Linked DNA regions of Homo sapiens: region 1 is linked to region 2. Evidence: fine-mapped expression QTL. A gene starts in region 2. The other region holds a variant in brackets. All regions are shown on one strand. Distances are between the middles of the regions. Region 1 holds the start of LOC107984087 (a long non-coding RNA gene). Region 2 holds the start of PHLDB2 (pleckstrin homology like domain family B member 2).

Region 1 (8,339 bases), 57 kb before region 2:
TTCCTTCATATTCTTGTTGACTGCCTTACTTGAAAGCAATTCAATCCATGTGTAAGGATTCCGTAAGACAGTCTGTCATGAGACAAAGGCAAAAATCCCTTGGTTCTATTTTTGCTACCATCTGTGTCTTTTTAAACTCCTCCTATATGTGGAACTTTTTCATTGCTTTGTTTGACTTCTGTAAATCTGCTAAATATGTTTACAAGCAACTTTCACAACCCTTCTCCACCATCACTCCCACTTTGATGTCCTACCATTTTAGAACTGGATAGATATTTAAGATGCTCTTAACTTTGCAGAAAACAGAACAACCAAGCCTCAGAGAAATGAAGTGATTTGCCGAAAGCTACGCAATTGTGATTACTCAATTGTAGAGAAATAGGGTAGGGTGCAGTGGTTTGCGACTGTAATCACAGCCCTGTGGGAAGCCACTGTGGAAGGATCGCTTGAGCCCATGAGTTTGAGGCCAGCCTTGGCGATATAGTGAGACACCCATCTCTATAAAAACATAAGAACATTAGCTAAGTGTAATGGTGCATGCTAGTAGTCCCAGCTACCTGGGAGGCTGAGGTGGGAAGATCCTTTAAGCTCAGGAGGTTGAGGCTGCAGTGAGCCAAAATCATGCCACTGCACTCCATCCTGGGTGACACAGTGAGACCCTATCTCAAAAAATTAAAATTTGAAAAATTTGAAAAACAATTGTAGAGGAATAGAAAACAAGGTGAACTTCTAAGACCTTGGCCTTTATAATTTACTCCCAAATTTTCTATCTTAAAAAAAGAAGAAGAAAAAGAATCAGGGAACATTCTAAATCTGAGAGTGCTCTAATTTTTCAAAAGATGTTTAAAAAGTCAATTTTTACCATCATTCTAAAGAAAGCAAGGAAATAAGACCTAAAAATATTTAAAACTCAAATCATCTGTATAGGAGAATTTTGGTATGTTCTAGGCTTCCTTGTGTTTACTTTTCATACTGCTTTCTGTAATCAAGTAAGATTAAGTGAAAATTACCTGGGCCACAAAACTGCAATGAAATTATTAAAGCATTTATTTAAAATATTTTCAGTCAGGTGCAGTGTATCATACCTGTAATCCCAACACTTTGGGAGGCTGAGGCAGGAGGATCACTTGAGCCCAGGAGGCCAAGGCTGCAGTGAGCTATGATCATGCCACTGTCCTCAAGGCTGGGTGACAGGGCCGGAGCCTGTCTCTAATAAAAATAAAATAAAATAAAATAAAATAAAATGTTATTTTATCTTTAATCTGAACAATTCTAGGATCTGGCATCTTTGATGTTTCCAATACAATCAATTTCAAAATATATGCTGAATTTCTACTATGCAAAGGAGTGTTGTTTAGACCTCATATGAGGGCCAGGAAGGTGAGCTAACATGGAGACAGGCTGTATGAGTCCACTCTCATGCTGCTAATAAAGACATACCCAAGACTGGGTGATTTATGAAAGAAAGAGGTTTGATTGACTCACAGTTCAGCATGGCTAGGGAGGCCCTAGGAAACTTACAATCATGGCAGAAGGGGAAGCAAACACATCCTTCTTCACATGGTGGCAGCAAGGAGAAAAATAAGAGCCAAGTGAAGCAGGAAGCCCCTTATAAAACCATTGGACCTTGTGAGAACTCACTATCACAAGAATAGCATGGGGGAAACCACCCCCGTGATTCCATTACTTCCCACTGGGTCCCTCCCATGACACCTAGGGATTATGGGAACTAAAATTCAAGATGAGATTTGGGTGGGGACACAGCCAAATCATATCACAAGCATTAAGAAGCTGGTACTCTTATTATAATGGGAGAGGCCCACATAGCCAAAAAAATCACTCTGAAATCTATCATGGTGTCAGCACAATTTGAACACAGACTGCTGTAAATAAAAGAGGAATAGTAGTCTTTGAATTTAATACTAGAAAAAAGTATTAGAAAAGAAAATTAAATTCTACTTCAGTTCTTCACATTGGTGAGGTAGACAGCTTCAATTGGTCTTTAAAAATATAGACTGATTTTCTATAAATTATTTTTTTGAAAGCTAGAAATACTTTAGAAATATGTCATCCCAATCAGAAAAAAGAAATTCTAAAGGAAGGTGAGGGAGAAGAACAAACAAGTAAATGTGAAATTGTCTCAAAGACATCAGGTTGGGTACTGAATTAAGTTTTTCTTAAAATCAAATTATAAAGACTTCCAGCAATTTCACTGCTGGAAATTTATACTGTGAATATCTTCCTATGTGAAGATATCTATTGTGGTTTTCCATAATTTACAGAAACTGAAAACAATGTTATGTATTCATCAGAAAGGACTGCTTTATTTAACTGTGTTCAACACATGTCATAGAGTACTATGCACTCCTGAAAATGAATTAGGGAGATCTATAGATACCAATATGGGAGGAGGTCTAAAAAATATTACTAAGTAAAAGGCAAGGAAAATAACTATATAGAAATATAAATAGAATCCTATTTGTGCAATAACAAGAGTGTATAAATGTACTCCTCATAAAGCATTTCTAGGAGGATACTCGAGAAACTTTTTTTTTGAGACAGAGTCTTACTCTGTTACCCAGGCTTGAGTGTGGTGGCACAATCACGGCTCACTGCAGACTCAACCTCCCTGGGCTCAGGTAATCCTCCCACTTCAACCTTCTGAGTAGCTAGGACTACAGGCATGCACCACCATGCCCACCTAGTTTTTGCAATTTTCTGTAGAGATGGGGTTTTGCCATGTTTCCCCGGCTAGTGTTAAATTCGTGGGCTCAAGTTTCTGCCTGCCTCGGCTTCCCAAAGTGCTGGGATTACAGACGTGAGCCAACATGCCTGGCCAAGAAACTCTTATTGAGCATATCTTTGGAAAATGAGACTGGGAAATTACATGAAAAGAAATTTTTATTTTATACCCTCTGTGCCTTTTGATTATTTTAAAATTATGGAGAGGTATTACTTTTGTATTACTTTTTGTTTATTAAATTCCTATACTATTATGCATATATCATTTTAAAACTATAGTTCTTTTAAGTTAAGTTTACTTGGGCAAATGTCCTAATTTCTTTTCTCACTGTATATCTTTAGTTTCTATATTCCAGTGACTTTGTTGTGGACTATGTGTTTGCCTCAGATTTTCCCATCTCTAATAATGTCATGAACTGGCATTTCTGAACTTTCATTTTTACTATTGGACTCTTTAATCCTGCTTGTTTTAAGAAGCATTTTGCAAGTTACACGTTAACTAAGATGCAGTACCTGATTTAAAGGGGACATACAATGCAATGAGAGAGACAGAAACTATTTTTACTTCATAAAATCCAGTTTTATAAAAAGCTCTGTTAATAACACTGAGGGAGTGTGAGAACACAAAAGAAAGCTTACTAAATTTGGCTGGGGAAAGAATCAAGGAAGATTTCTAAGAAGTTATGCCAATTAAGATAAATCTTGAAAAGATGAATCAGCTGGTACAAGTATAATACATTGCCTTCATAGATCATTTTGCAAGACTTAGAATTAGTGAAATTTAGACATAGAAGAGACCTTAAATAATATTAAATGTAACATTCTCATTTTTAAAATAGAGAAATGTGACTTGTTAAACAACATGAGCTGTGGGGTCAAATTCAATGGCCAATACAGAGTAGACACTTAATAAATATTTGCTCCCTTCAGAACTGGCCACATAAATTACAGGGCCCAGTGGAAAATGAAATACAAGGCCCCTTGTTCAAAAGTTATTAAGAATTTCAAGACAGTCACAACAGAGTGTTAAAACAAGCATAGGCCCCTCTGAGCACAGGGCCACATTGAAATAACCCACAGTCCTGGGGTTCATGAAGCAGGCCTCCCTCCCTCCTCTAATCTAAGTTTCAAGGGGTAAGTAGACACAGAAACTAAACAAGAACTCAGGTCTCCTTTGGATACAAAGACCTCAAAATTTTAAAAGCTCATAAACAATCTGTTCACCCAATATTTTTAACTGAGGTGATATGAAGATCTCATATTTATCTTTATATAATAGTTAATAAATTTGTGCCTTTATTCATTCATGTCACAAATATGAATAAATGTGTCCCAAGAGCCTAGGACAAGGCTGGTTCATAATAAGTATTCAGTGAAGAGTAGGTGAAGGATGGATGACCAGATGAATGAGTGACTAAACAATAAGCTACAATTGAGTATTATTGCCCATAAAAAGAAATAAAATTTTGATACATGTAACACCATGAATGAACCTTGAAAATATTATGCTAAGTGAAAGGAGACAGACACAAGAGATCACATAACATATAATTACATTTATATGAAATGTGTGGAATAGTCAAGTCTATAGAGACAGAACATACATTAGTGGTTGCTGGGGACTGGGAGGAGGGAAGAGTAAGGAGTGACTGCTCATGGATATGGGTGTTTTGTTTTGTTTTGTTTTGTTTTGGAATGATGACAA[T/C]GTTCTGGAATAAGATAGCAGTGATGGTTGCACAACTTTGTGAATGTAATCACAAATATCATCAAATTCTAGACTTTATAAAGGGTGGATATTATAGTATATGAATTCTATCTCAATTTTTAGAATGTAAAACAATAAATTAACCAGGATAGAAAGATTTAAGTAACTTGCTAAAAATTGATTTGTGTTACTTGTGATGATTATGCATCTAACATCAAAACTTTGGCTCCTAGTTCAGGCTTTCTCCAGTCTATCAAGCTACTGCACAGAAAACTGCAGAGTGCCACCAGCTATCTCTATGGCTCCATGGAGCACTGTGCTTACATACAAGAAACCTCTCTTGTACCAAAGTGTAAACACAGTGGTGGCTGCATTCTGCCTCCAGAGGATCTGGCCTACAGAGTGAAGAATAAAGGGGAGACAGAGCAAGGGGAGAGCACTTTCCAAGAGCTTCCTCATTTTCTCTGTGTTGTCCTAGACACCACCCACTAGCCTTGTATCTCAGGTCTTGGTTGAGAAACCAAAATAACTAATGACACTCCTATGATGCCTTGGCAGCATTCCCTGATAACTTAGAATATTTATTTCCTGTTTTCCCAACTCTCATTTATTTCCATGCTAGCATAGAGCAAGATGACGTGTAACCTCTTGTGAAATGCTTGATATTTGTCCCTTAGAAGAGACATTAGTACTATACATTTAGCAAATAGTAAAATAACAACACTCATAGCTTGTTCTTGTGAGTAATATGTGAAAGTTTTCTAAACTGTATTTTAGTTTTAACTTACATTCGTTACAGCAGAGTGAGGCAAGCATCATGCATTCTCTCTCTTTTAAAGAAAAAGCACTAAAACTTCCATTTTTTCACTTCTAGTTTATGATCCTCTCTTCTTCCTTACCATGAGAATCAATAAGGGTGGGTGGTGTGAACACATGTTTTTTGTCCTGTCAGGAAAAGTTAAAGGTTATGGTCCTGCTCCCAAATGATAGATAATTAATCATCTTTAAAATGGCAACCTGTCACTGGAAAAGGAAAAGCAGAAATATAAAATAAAGCAGATATATGATATCAGGTAGCAACAAGGATGTCACAGATTTAATGAGTATAGGGGATGTTGTACAAAAAGTTTTATACTAATCTCTAGAAACAAAAGAAAAAGCAGAAATGATCTATATGTTCATAGTCTATATGGCCATCTCTCTAATTTTGAAATCAGCAGTCATTCCTTGGTTGGCATCTGCTACTTGGGAGCAGAGGATGGAAGAACACAGCAAACAAAAGTTTCATCGTTAAGCTGTGAAGCAGAGGGAACAGGCAGCTAGCCAAAACTTATGTGGTTCTTCAAATTTCTGATGGGGATCAGAGTGCCTCTCCCTCACTGACAAATATGGAATGGAATGTAAGGTTGCTACTAACAGGGTTCTCTGCAATCCTGAGATTGGTTCTGTTCTAGCCAAAGCTCTTGGATTCCTGTAAACTCCAGTCCAGTTGAAACTTCCCGGGAGAATGTGCCCCCACCACCCCGTGCAGAACTCCTGGACATCTTAGTGACAGCCCCACCCCCACCACTAGTCTTCCCAGAATTCGAGCTGTGAGAACACATCAATTCCTGACTCAGGCATTTGAGTCAATTTTCAGTGAACTCAGGATAGTAGAATGGAACACCATCTCACCCACCAGCAATCCCTGGCTAGCACATGAGTGGGAGGAAATCATGGGCTTTGAAATCAAACAAACTCAGGTTCTTACATTCACTAATTACACTCAGAAACTGTGTATTCTTTGTAGAATTTGAAAGTGTTAACCTCATTGAGCGTTACTTCCCTCAGCTATAAAAAATGGATATAACAATTTTTTTCTCTGATGTTGCTTTAAAACAAAGTGAGATAAAGAATGAAAATTTCCAATTTACAAATATTTCTTAACAAAGCGTAGATTTGTTCCTTTCTATTCCAAAGCTAATGACTTCAGGTGAAATGGTATCTTGAGAGTGGGGGGCATTCTGAGGAATCAGTCTCAGACCAAATTCATGTAATCAGTTGAAAACGTCCTGTTTGATTAGTCCCTTTAAACTCTTTATGTGCCTTTCCTGTCCTCTAATTCAGTTTCTAAACTTTTGTTCAGTATCACATCCCTAAAGAAGCCTTTTTAGACATTTTTTCTGATCGTCCTCTCCTCCATGAGATTTAATGCCACAGAGACACCATTATGTTGTTTGTGAACTGTATATAGGTATATCTGTGCTTTATACATTAAAATAGTAAGAAAATGTTAAACCCCCCAAGAACCAATTTTCACCCTTTGGTGGACAATATTGTTCCTATTGAGAACACATGGTCTATAAACAAACAAAAAGTTAGAAGAATCTTTGAAGAGATAATCTTTTAAAGCCTGTGAAAGAAGACATTATTGAATTCTTCTGAAGAACAGAGTCTTCCCTTCATCATCTCTTAACTATTAGAGGTAGAAAACTTTGGCGAAGTTTTAACAATTTCTTGATTTCCTATGTTTAGCCAATGATGTTCAGGTCAACCTGTTAGAAATAAAGAAAGAAGCCTCAGATGCAAAAAAGTAAATGATGATGCTAGGCCCCAACCTACTGATGTATTGTTTTCTACGCAGAGTATAAGATATACTATCTGCAGCATAAGTACAGTAATAATGGAGCTAAACCTCAAAAAATTAGTCCCACATCACTTGACTAATAGGTTTCTACTTTACTCCATGTGGATGTCCAGATTTTGCCCAATTAAACTTTCATTTCTTATTTAAAATTACAGCTAATACTTACCATTGAAATTTTGGGGGGAAAACTTTGCTAAACTGCAGTGTTTATTTGACTTTTTAAATAACTGTGATGCTGAACAGTAAGAATTAATTTGCACACAGGGCTTCTAAAAAGTGGGCCACTTCTTATTTTGAGAAAAACTTCAAAATTATGTAATAAATTTCACTGAGAAATAAAATATTGACATAAATAACAATAGAACAATATCAAGTTTTTGGTAAAATAAAAAGTTATTCATGTGAAAAATAAAATAATAGAACAATACTAGGTGCTGGGGAGGATGTGGAGCAACCAGAAGTCTTATACACTGCTAGCAAGAATGTAGAATTTGAAAGTGTCAACCTCAGTCACTTTGGAGAACAGTTTGACAATTTCTTAACACGTTAAACATACGTGTGCCTTGTTACCCAACAAGTCTACTCCTAGATATAGGAATTTACCCAAGAGAGATGAAACATAAGTCCACAAAAGACTTGTACATAAATGTTTATAGCAGCTTTGTTCATTATAGCCAAGAACAAATTATGATATATCCATACAAGCTAATACTACTCAACAATAAAAAAAATTACTGGGGCCGGGCGCTGTGGCTCAAGCCTGTAATCCCAGCACTTTGGGAGGCTGAGGCGGGCAGATCACGAGGTCAGGAGCTCGAGACCATCCTGGCTAACATGGTGAAACCCCGTCTTTACTAAAAATACAAAAAAATTAGCTGGGCATGGTGGCGCATGCCTGTAGTCCCAGCTACTCGGGAGGCTGAGGCAGGAGAATGGCACGAACCTGGGAGGCGGAGCTTGCAGTGAGCCGAGATTGCGCCGCTGCACTCCAGCCTGGGCGACAGAGCAACACTCCGTCTCAAAAAAAAAGAAAAAAAATTACTGGATAAATGCAACAACATGGATGGGTCTCATAAACAGCAAGCTTAGTGAAAGAAGCCAGACACAAAAGTATACATACTGTCTGATTCCATTTTTATGGAATGCTAGTAAAGACAAATCTAATCTATAGTGACAGAAAGCAGGTCAGTGGTGCCTGGGGCCAGGGGTGGTGAGTGGGAGTGTTGACTGGGAAGGACACAGGGAAATTTTGGGATGATGGAAATG
Region 2 (8,339 bases):
CGAACTTCAGCACAAACAATTGTTCCATGAGTTAAACTGCAGTAAGATTGAAATGAGTTAATAGCTACAAAGATTTGTTAGGCTATCATTGCAGAGAAAGGAGCAAATATACAGATTCAGGACATAAAAAGTTAATCAAATCCAACCGATCTTTTCTAATAAAAGAGAACAATAGCAAAAATAATTACAAATGGAATAACATAAATAATTCATAATATCACTGTATGTGTTTCAAAGTGAGCAGGTATGTACAAACCTACTCCCAAAGACCACAGAAGCTGAAAAGCCAAAGAAAGAGGCTGACAAGTCCAGTTTCTCAGAAAGAAACATTTAATAGAGACTTATGAACAGAAGCCATGTCCCCAGTGGCTGTGAAAAAAGATGGTGCATCTCCACGCTGTCACTCCCAGAGTCAAGACACATAAACTAAAGGAAAAGAATGTGTAGGAGAATTGAAGTCGACCCCTTGGGGAGAGGCAAGAATGCTCTGTGAATCTGCCCATGGGCAGGATTTATGGTCAAGGTTGTTTTGACCCAGGGGCAGGATTTAAGGTATCAGTAGATAAAGTACAAATCTTAGAGTAATTCCCAGAACTCGGGTTAATCAGAAGTCAACAGGTAATCTTCCATGGAATTAGGGTAAAAAGAAAAAAAAAAGTCAGCATGGCAGATTAGCATCCAAGATAGAGTTGCTTTAGCCTCAACACTGTGCAACACTTTAAGGTTCCCCACCTGAGAGGGTGAAGGACACAGGAAAGTAAGATCAGGGACTGTAACCACTACAGATCCTGGAGAGGCAAACAAGAAAGGTCTGCTGTTTAGTTTACAACACAATATCTCTAGTGATAAGGAATGGCAGAGCGCAGGCAGGACTCTGGTCTGTGATTAAACAGAAAACTTTATTATAAAGAACCCAGGAAATAGAAAAGGTAGAAAGACTCTCTCTTTCTTCCTTCCTTCCTTCCTTTCTTTCTTTCTCTCTCTCCCCCTCCCGCGCTTCCCTCTTTTTCCTTCCTTCCTTCCTCCCTTCTTTGCTTCCTTCCTTCTTTTCTTTCCTTTCTTTCTTCTTTCTTTCCATCACCATTACTAAAAGAAAGTCTGGTAATATAATAATAACAATAACAGTTGCACTTTATTGAGTGCTTTCTATAGATGTTGAGGTCTGCATTTGTCTTTTTTTTTTTTTTTTTTTTTTTTGGCGACAAGGTCTCACTCTGCCACCCAGGCTGGAGTGCAATGGTGCGATCATGGATCACCCAGCCTCGAATTCTCAGGTGATTCTCCCACCTCAGCCTCCTGAGTAGCTGGGACTACAGATGGTGCACCACCATGCCCGGCTAATATTTTTGTATTTTTAGTAGAGACGGGTTTTGCCATGTTGGCCAGGCTGCTCTGGAACTTCTAATCTCAAGCAATCCTGCTACCTCGGCTCCCAAGGTGTTGGGATTACAGGCATGAGCCATTGAGCCTGGACTGAATTTATCTAATTTAAGACTTGCACCTTCAGGGTGGTCTCGTCTATCTTCAGGCTGCTATGGCCTTATGAAAGCTATTGAAAACCACTCTAACTCATCAGGAATGGGAAACTTTGCTGGGTTTAGTCACTTGAAAAAGTCACATTCAATGACTACTTTTTGAGTCCCTTCCATATATAAGTCTTGGAGTATGATTCATACAAATATGAATAAAATGACTCCCTTTGCCTTCTAGGAGCTTGGCTATCCTAAGAGATAGAGATGCTAGCAGATAAAACAAGGCAGTGAAGGGAGGCCAGTGAGGATTACTTTTTGTCTAGTAATTTGGAATTATTCATTATACAGAAATATCCCCTAGTAACATTCATACTTAGAAAAGAGGTAGAAGGTAGCATTAAAGACAATGAACTCAAGAACAAGTGCTCAAATTCTGCCTCTACCAACTTATTACCTGAGTGACAACTGACTTCTCTGTGATTCCTTTTTTACTTATAAAATGGGAGTAGTAACAAACAGTAACTCTCACCGCATCAACTAATATTGTCCTATATTTGGAAGAATACCGGATACGTATACAATAGTAATTATTGCTCTCAATAAATTTAGCTATTTTTTTCTTAGACATAAATATTGGCAATCTAATTATGGCCATTCTAAATGTGCTGTGTTGGTGCACATTCTCCTTAGACCTGAAGGGAGAAAGGTTGTCTCTAAGATGTCTGTGTAGTCAAGTGTATTTCTGGCATTGCTCGAGGCAAGGAAATGTTTGCAACACAGTGCTTTGGGTCAAAGCCATCATTTATTCTTGAGCACCATTTACATGTCCGGTATCCTTGTAGGCACACTAGGGATATAGCACTGGAGAGAACAGGCAAAACTCTCTGCCTGCCTGCCTTACATTCTAGTGAGGAGAGACAGACAATAAACATAATTTAAAAAGTACATTTTACAATATAGTAGAATGTGGTGACTTTGTCAAAAAGTAAATTTAAGTAGTATGGAAAACACATTTTAAACTTTTAAGTAGAGTGGTCAGAGCAGGCCTGAGCAACACGGTGACATTGAACAGGGTCTTGAAGGAAGTGAGGGAGTGAACCATGCAGATACTTGGGAGGAGGGAATTATAGGCAGAGAGGGCAATTAGAACAAAGGCCCTGAGATAGAACGGATTTACCTAGGAATCTAGTCTACGAGGCCACTGTGGCAGGGGCTAAGTGAGTGATAAAGGGGAAGTAGGAGGCTGGGCACAGTGGCTCACACCTGTCATCCCAACACTTAGGGTGGCGGAGGCAGACAGATCGCTTGAGCCCAGGAGTTCAAGAACAGTCTGGGCAATGTGGTGAAACCCCATCTCTGCAAAAAATTCAATATTAGCTGGGCATGGTGGTCTGCACCTGTGGTCCCAGCTATTCAGGAGGCTGAAGTGGGAGGATCACTTGAGCCCAGGAGGTTAAGGCTGCAGTGAGCTATGACTGTGCCATTGCACTCCAACCTGGGTGACAAAGTGAGGCCCTGTCTCAAAAAAAAAAAAAAGAAAAGAAAAGAAAAAAAAATTCCAAGGTAATGGAAATAAAATGATTGTATGTTTATGGGGATGATCCAAAAAAGAGGAGGAAAGAGATGACGTGGGTGAGAAAAGAACATTGCTGGAGCACTTAACTGTTTAACTGTTGGATTGATCAGTGTATGTATGCTTCTGCAGGGCAAAAACTCAGGACAGGGAAAAGAATTCCTCTAAAAAACCCGGCATTCCTAACAAACATATGAAAAAAAGCTCATCATCACTAGTCATTACAGAAATGCAAATCAAAACCACAACGAGATACCATCTCACGCCAGTTAGAATGGCAATCATTAAAAAGTCAGGAAATAACAGACGCTGCAGAGAATGTGGAGAAATGGGAACGCTTTTACACTGTTGGTGGGAGTATAAGTTAGTTCAACCATTGTGGAAGACAGTGTGGCGATTCCTCAGGGATCTAGAACTAGAAATACCATTTGACCCAGCAATCCCATTACTGGGTATATACCCAAAGAATTATAAATCATTCTACTATAAAGACACATACAAACGTATGTTTATTGCAGCACTGTTCACAATAACAAAGACTTGGAACCAACCCAAGTGCCCATCAATGATAGACTGGATGAAGAAAATGTGGCACATATACACCATGGAATACCATGCAGCCATAAAAAAGAATGAATTCATGTCCTTTGCAGGGACGTGGATGATGCTGGAAACCATCATTCTCAGCAAACTAACACAGGAACAGAAAACCAAACACTGCATGTTCTCATCATAAGTGGGAGTTGAACAATGAGAACATATGGACCCAGGGAGGGGAACATCACACCCTGAGGCCTGTTGGGGGGTGGGGGACAAGGGGAGGGAGAGCATTAGGACAAATAACTAATGCATGCGGAGCTTAAAACCTAGATGAAGGGTTGATGGGTGCTGCAAACCACCATGGCACATGTATACCTGTGTAACAAACCTGCACGTTCTGCACATGTATCCCAGAACTTAAAGTATAATTAAAAAAGAAATTTAAAAAAGACATTCCGTAGGTGAGGCTCTCCCTAAAAGTCAAACTTTTACTTGCACATATGAAAAGTGTAATCATTAAATAAGCTATTTCTTCAGTGACGGTATACTGAGTTCTGCTCATGGTGCCAAGTACTTTGCATATATTATTCAGAAGCTTATTAGCTGCCCTGCAGCACCAGTATCATTTATTGCTGCACTCCAGGTGAAGAAATTGTTGCTGGGAGCTACAACAACTTGCCCAAAGCCACAATGATCATAAGTAGTTTGCGCTTCGTTGTGCTCTTCTTTGCTGGTGTGAGATTCTCGAGGGCCAATGTCCTTCATCTGCGTAACTCTAGGGACTCGCCCAGACCTTGGAAGAGGTTCACATTCCCGCGTGCCGAGATTGATTATGGGCCACCCTCGGTCTCATTCGTTGACTTCCAATAAAGCATTGGCTGGTGGACCTCTACATCAGCATTGTTTTCATTGGATATAGCAACTCAGAAAAATATTGGGGAAAATATAAAAACTTTCAAGAGATATGATTGCAAGAAAATCAGAATGAGTTTAAAACCCTCCTGACCCCAGTCCTTAGCTCAGGCCGTTCTCCAAGGATTTTGCAAACCTGCTTTCTGACGCAGCTGGTAAACTTGCCCCGGGGCGAACTGTCGGAAGGAGGTGCGGTCACCTGGAGTTTCCCAATAGATACTTCGCTGTCTGGTGAGGAAATCATCACCCTAGGACGTAAACCCTCCCGCCCTTCTTTCAGCTCTTAAAAAAAGCCTGCCACGAAAGTCCCTACTGCGTTGCTGCGAACGTAGCTTTGAGAAGCTGGCGCCCAGTGATGGGGCAAACAGCCATGCCCTTCCAGCAGCCGTGAAAGCCCCAACAGCAAACTGCCTGGGAGCGGGGCAGGTCACCAACTTCGTTGCTCGAACTCCCTGGGTGCCCGCCGCGGTGGTTACAAAGGGGGTCAAGAGTGCCGGACCCAGCCGCGCGGAGCCCACCATTGCGGCCCGAGGGGGACCCGACGGGGGCCCGACGGTGTGGCGTGGCGCAAGGAGCGCGCCTGCCTTCTCTCGCCGCCGGGAACGGGCTGCACCAATGGCCAGGTGAGGAGGCGGCGGTGGTCGCCCGGGAGGAGGGGGTGGTGCCGACTCCGTGTGCCAGGAGTGCGTCCCGGGGACGCTGCCTCCCCCGCGGCCGAGTTGGTTGCCGCCGGTTGCGCTGCGGAGGGTTGGGGGCGGAGAGGAGGCAGTGGCTGCCCGGGCCGAGGAGGGGCGCGCTGACTGCTCACCGCGAGTCAGGAGGGGCCGGCGGGCTCACGGAGGGAGACAGGGTGGGCGGGGGCAAAGGCTAGGCGCTAGGGCGGCGGCGCCAGCGTAGAGCGGCGGTTTGGAGGAAAGATGAGACGGTGAGTGGGCTCCGGGGACACAGAGTTTCTTTGCTTCTTTACAGGCTGTAGGGACAAAAGCCCGGGCTGGGGTCGGCAGTGCCCAGGCTGCGCAGCTGGGTGGGTGGGGGTGGCGAACCCCGTTGTGCATGACTCTCGGGGGGCTGGGTAGATCTCCGGTTGAGGGGATCCCGGGGAGGGAGTGTCTGGTAGGGAAGATGCTTCCAGAGTGATTGTAGAAAACAGGCAGAATGTGGGGGAACTGGGGGCAACTTTTTCCAGCAACTCTGGAATGCACATGGAGAGAGGGATGGGGATCCTTGGGATAGCTCCCTGAGAAAGAGAAGGTCCGCTGCTGGATGGTGTAGGGCGCGGGATTCAGAGAAGACTCCCTCCCCGCAAATATTTGGCTAGCTGCGCTTCTAGTTCCACTTTCTTTCAAGAGTGAACCTACGAGCTTTAACCGCCAAAAGCGGCTGATTTCGATTTGGCCTTTGACCCCCCACTGAAAGTTTACAGTGTGGCCGTCTCGGCACCCCTAGAGATAGCAGCTGGAAGGCTTGGGGAGTATTTTAACCCTCTGTTTCTCCAGCTCCCTGCGCGGCGGAGGCGCAGCTGAATCGTTTGCTGGTTCGCTTAATAACTTAGCCCTAGCAGTCATCACTTATTAAAGCGCCGAGGACCTGGCTAACTCCCGCCACCACCAGGAAATTAAAAGGCTGACAGGCTGTCCCTCCCAGGGTTGGGGTTTCCTGTTTGAAAGAGCTTGAGAAGTCAAACTGCTTCGCGGTTCCTCACTTACCTTTCTTATGTAAAAGAGGGAGCGACGCCCGCAGCTTTTTCTCTCGGTAAACTACCCGTGGCTGGAAATCCTCCGGGCGCCTGGCCCTGCCCTCTTCCCTAGAAATCTTTATCCTGCAACTCTGAAGTAGCTCTAAAGAGCTCTAGAATGCACAACTAGTCATAGCCAGGCACAGCTGGGAGTGTAACTAGACGAGGCATAAAAATGTGGAGTCTTTTTAGTGTAAATATTTGTCAGCCACATTTCCCTTCGTAATATGAACGTGTAAGTTACAGATGTAGGTTTTCAAGTATTGGACGTGTAATTTTAAGCTTCCTAGTTTGGTTTAATTTGGGCGTTCGAGATATGTCTCTGGGATTCTAACGTTTGAATTCGGCTGGGAGAGATCTAAATGAGGTCCACAGTTTCAGAAGGTTAAACTTTTGCCCTGTGAACACTTGAATTCTTGGTTCCTGGTAGGTTAGCAACAGAACTGTCGGATTTGGGATAAATAAACCGTTAGAGTTGCCCACTATTTTAACAGAATGGCTATATCTCTCTTGCCGTTGCCTTCAATTGTGTAAATATTTGTTTGAATAAAGAGCGAAGGTTCTTTGAAAAGTAACAGTTCTGTCTATTCTTGGCTCCCCTTTCATATCCTCTGCTTAGTTATTTAAAAGGATTTTCTTTGCCTCTTACATTTAATGGGGAAATTTAAACATTACATGTACTTAAATTCTGTAAAGTTACCAAACCATTTATAACTGGCAAATTATTTAATGACAAGGAAGAGTTGAGTTTGTCGTCTTAGTTGGCTAATGTAGCCTTCATCTCTTGAGACCCAGAGGTTTGCAGATCTCAGCCTGTCAGAAGTGGAAAAATGAGATGTCTGGTTAAGAGTAGTCATCATTTCAGTCAATTTGCAGGCCTCAATCTGTTTTATGCAGCTGGCAGCTGCTGTTCTTTTGGTGTTGAGATCGTCTGCCACGAGTGTCGCCTGGATCCCTGTTTGAAAAGGGGAGGAAAAGATACTTGGGAAATTGGACTGAGAGCTTGCTTACTCCTCCGTTCAATAACTGTGACCAAGCTGAAACTCGTTAGCAACCTTTCCAGAAACGTTTTATTTACCATGTGTGTTTGTTGTGTATGCAAGAGAGGAAAAAATAAGCCAAAGTGATTAACCAATCTCTGGTTTTCCCTATTTTCTTCAAAGCTCCATTTTGAGATCTATAAGCAAGGGTTGACTCTCGAGTTCATTGGAGAAGTTACCTCGGCTCACTACAACTTCTGCCTCCTTGGTTCAAGCCATTTTCCTGCCTCAGCCTCCCGAGTAGCTGGGATTACAGGCGCCTGCCACCACACCTGGCTAATTTTTCTATTTTTAGTAGTGACAGGATTTTGCCATGTTGGTCAGGCTGGTCTCAAACTCTTAACCTCAGGTGATCCACCTGCCTTGGCCTCCCAAAGTACTGGGATTACAGGCATGAGCCACCACACCCGGTCTCCTTTTAAATATTTTTAAAGGAGTAGTTAACGTTATGGCTTTATATCCTGATTTTCAACCCTTAGCAGGGAGGCAGTGCTATGGTGCTGTGGATGGCTTAGAGTGACAGTGGCTTTGTACATTTTCTAGGTGGAGTACCTGTGCCTTATGAATCTATCTGTAAAGTCTTGGTGTACCAATTGTTGATTGTGTAAATGTCACTCTTTTGAAACAAAAACACCTAAGTGATGTGCTTTATCTTAAAGTCCTGACATACATTAGAGCTGTGGTTTTCACTGGGAGAGGGGTTTTGGCCCCCAGAGGATACTGGCAACGTATTTTTGGTTGTAGCAACTGACAGGAGGAGAGTGCTACTGCCATATAGTGGGTAGAGGCCTGGGATGCGGTTAAGCACCCTGCCATGCACGGGACACAAAAACAATTATGCAGCCCCAAACCCTGCACTACAGTATTGCCTGGGGGAGTAGGTTAACAAGATTAGGCATCTTAATCTGATTTGGATCCTCAAGAAACTTGTTTAACTGTGTTAAACAAGAGACCCTTATCATAGAAGCCGTTTTGTATGCAGCAGATTCTTTTGTCCTTGCCATTTAGAGTCTTAATATACCATAGAGGTCGAGGAACTTGTGTTCATTGACAACTTTGAGATGGAT

The links. PIP is the estimated chance that this variant, and not a neighbour inherited with it, causes the effect.
Region 1: its variant is fine-mapped to the expression of PHLDB2 in lung (TOPMed, PIP 0.96).

Annotation. Positions count from the first base shown.
Region 1 is chr3:111,797,468-111,805,806 of GRCh38, forward strand. LOC107984087 (a long non-coding RNA gene) reads right to left here and starts at 1,128. Exons shown (of 4, transcript XR_001740848.2): 1 at 1,086-1,128. LOC105374040 (a long non-coding RNA gene) reads right to left here. Exons shown (of 4, transcript XR_924333.4): 4 at 1,711-6,981. It also overlaps a transcript of PHLDB2 not described here. The variant T/C (reference allele first, on the strand shown) is at 4,448.
Region 2 is chr3:111,854,457-111,862,795 of GRCh38, forward strand. PHLDB2 (pleckstrin homology like domain family B member 2) reads left to right here and starts at 4,809. Exons shown (of 18, transcript NM_001134438.2): 1 at 4,809-5,120. It overlaps LOC105374040 (a long non-coding RNA gene), which reads right to left and starts at 6,360. Exons shown (of 4, transcript XR_924333.4): 1 at 6,204-6,360. RefSeq lists enhancers at 4,631-5,217, 5,218-5,802, 6,133-6,242 and a silencer at 5,267-5,326.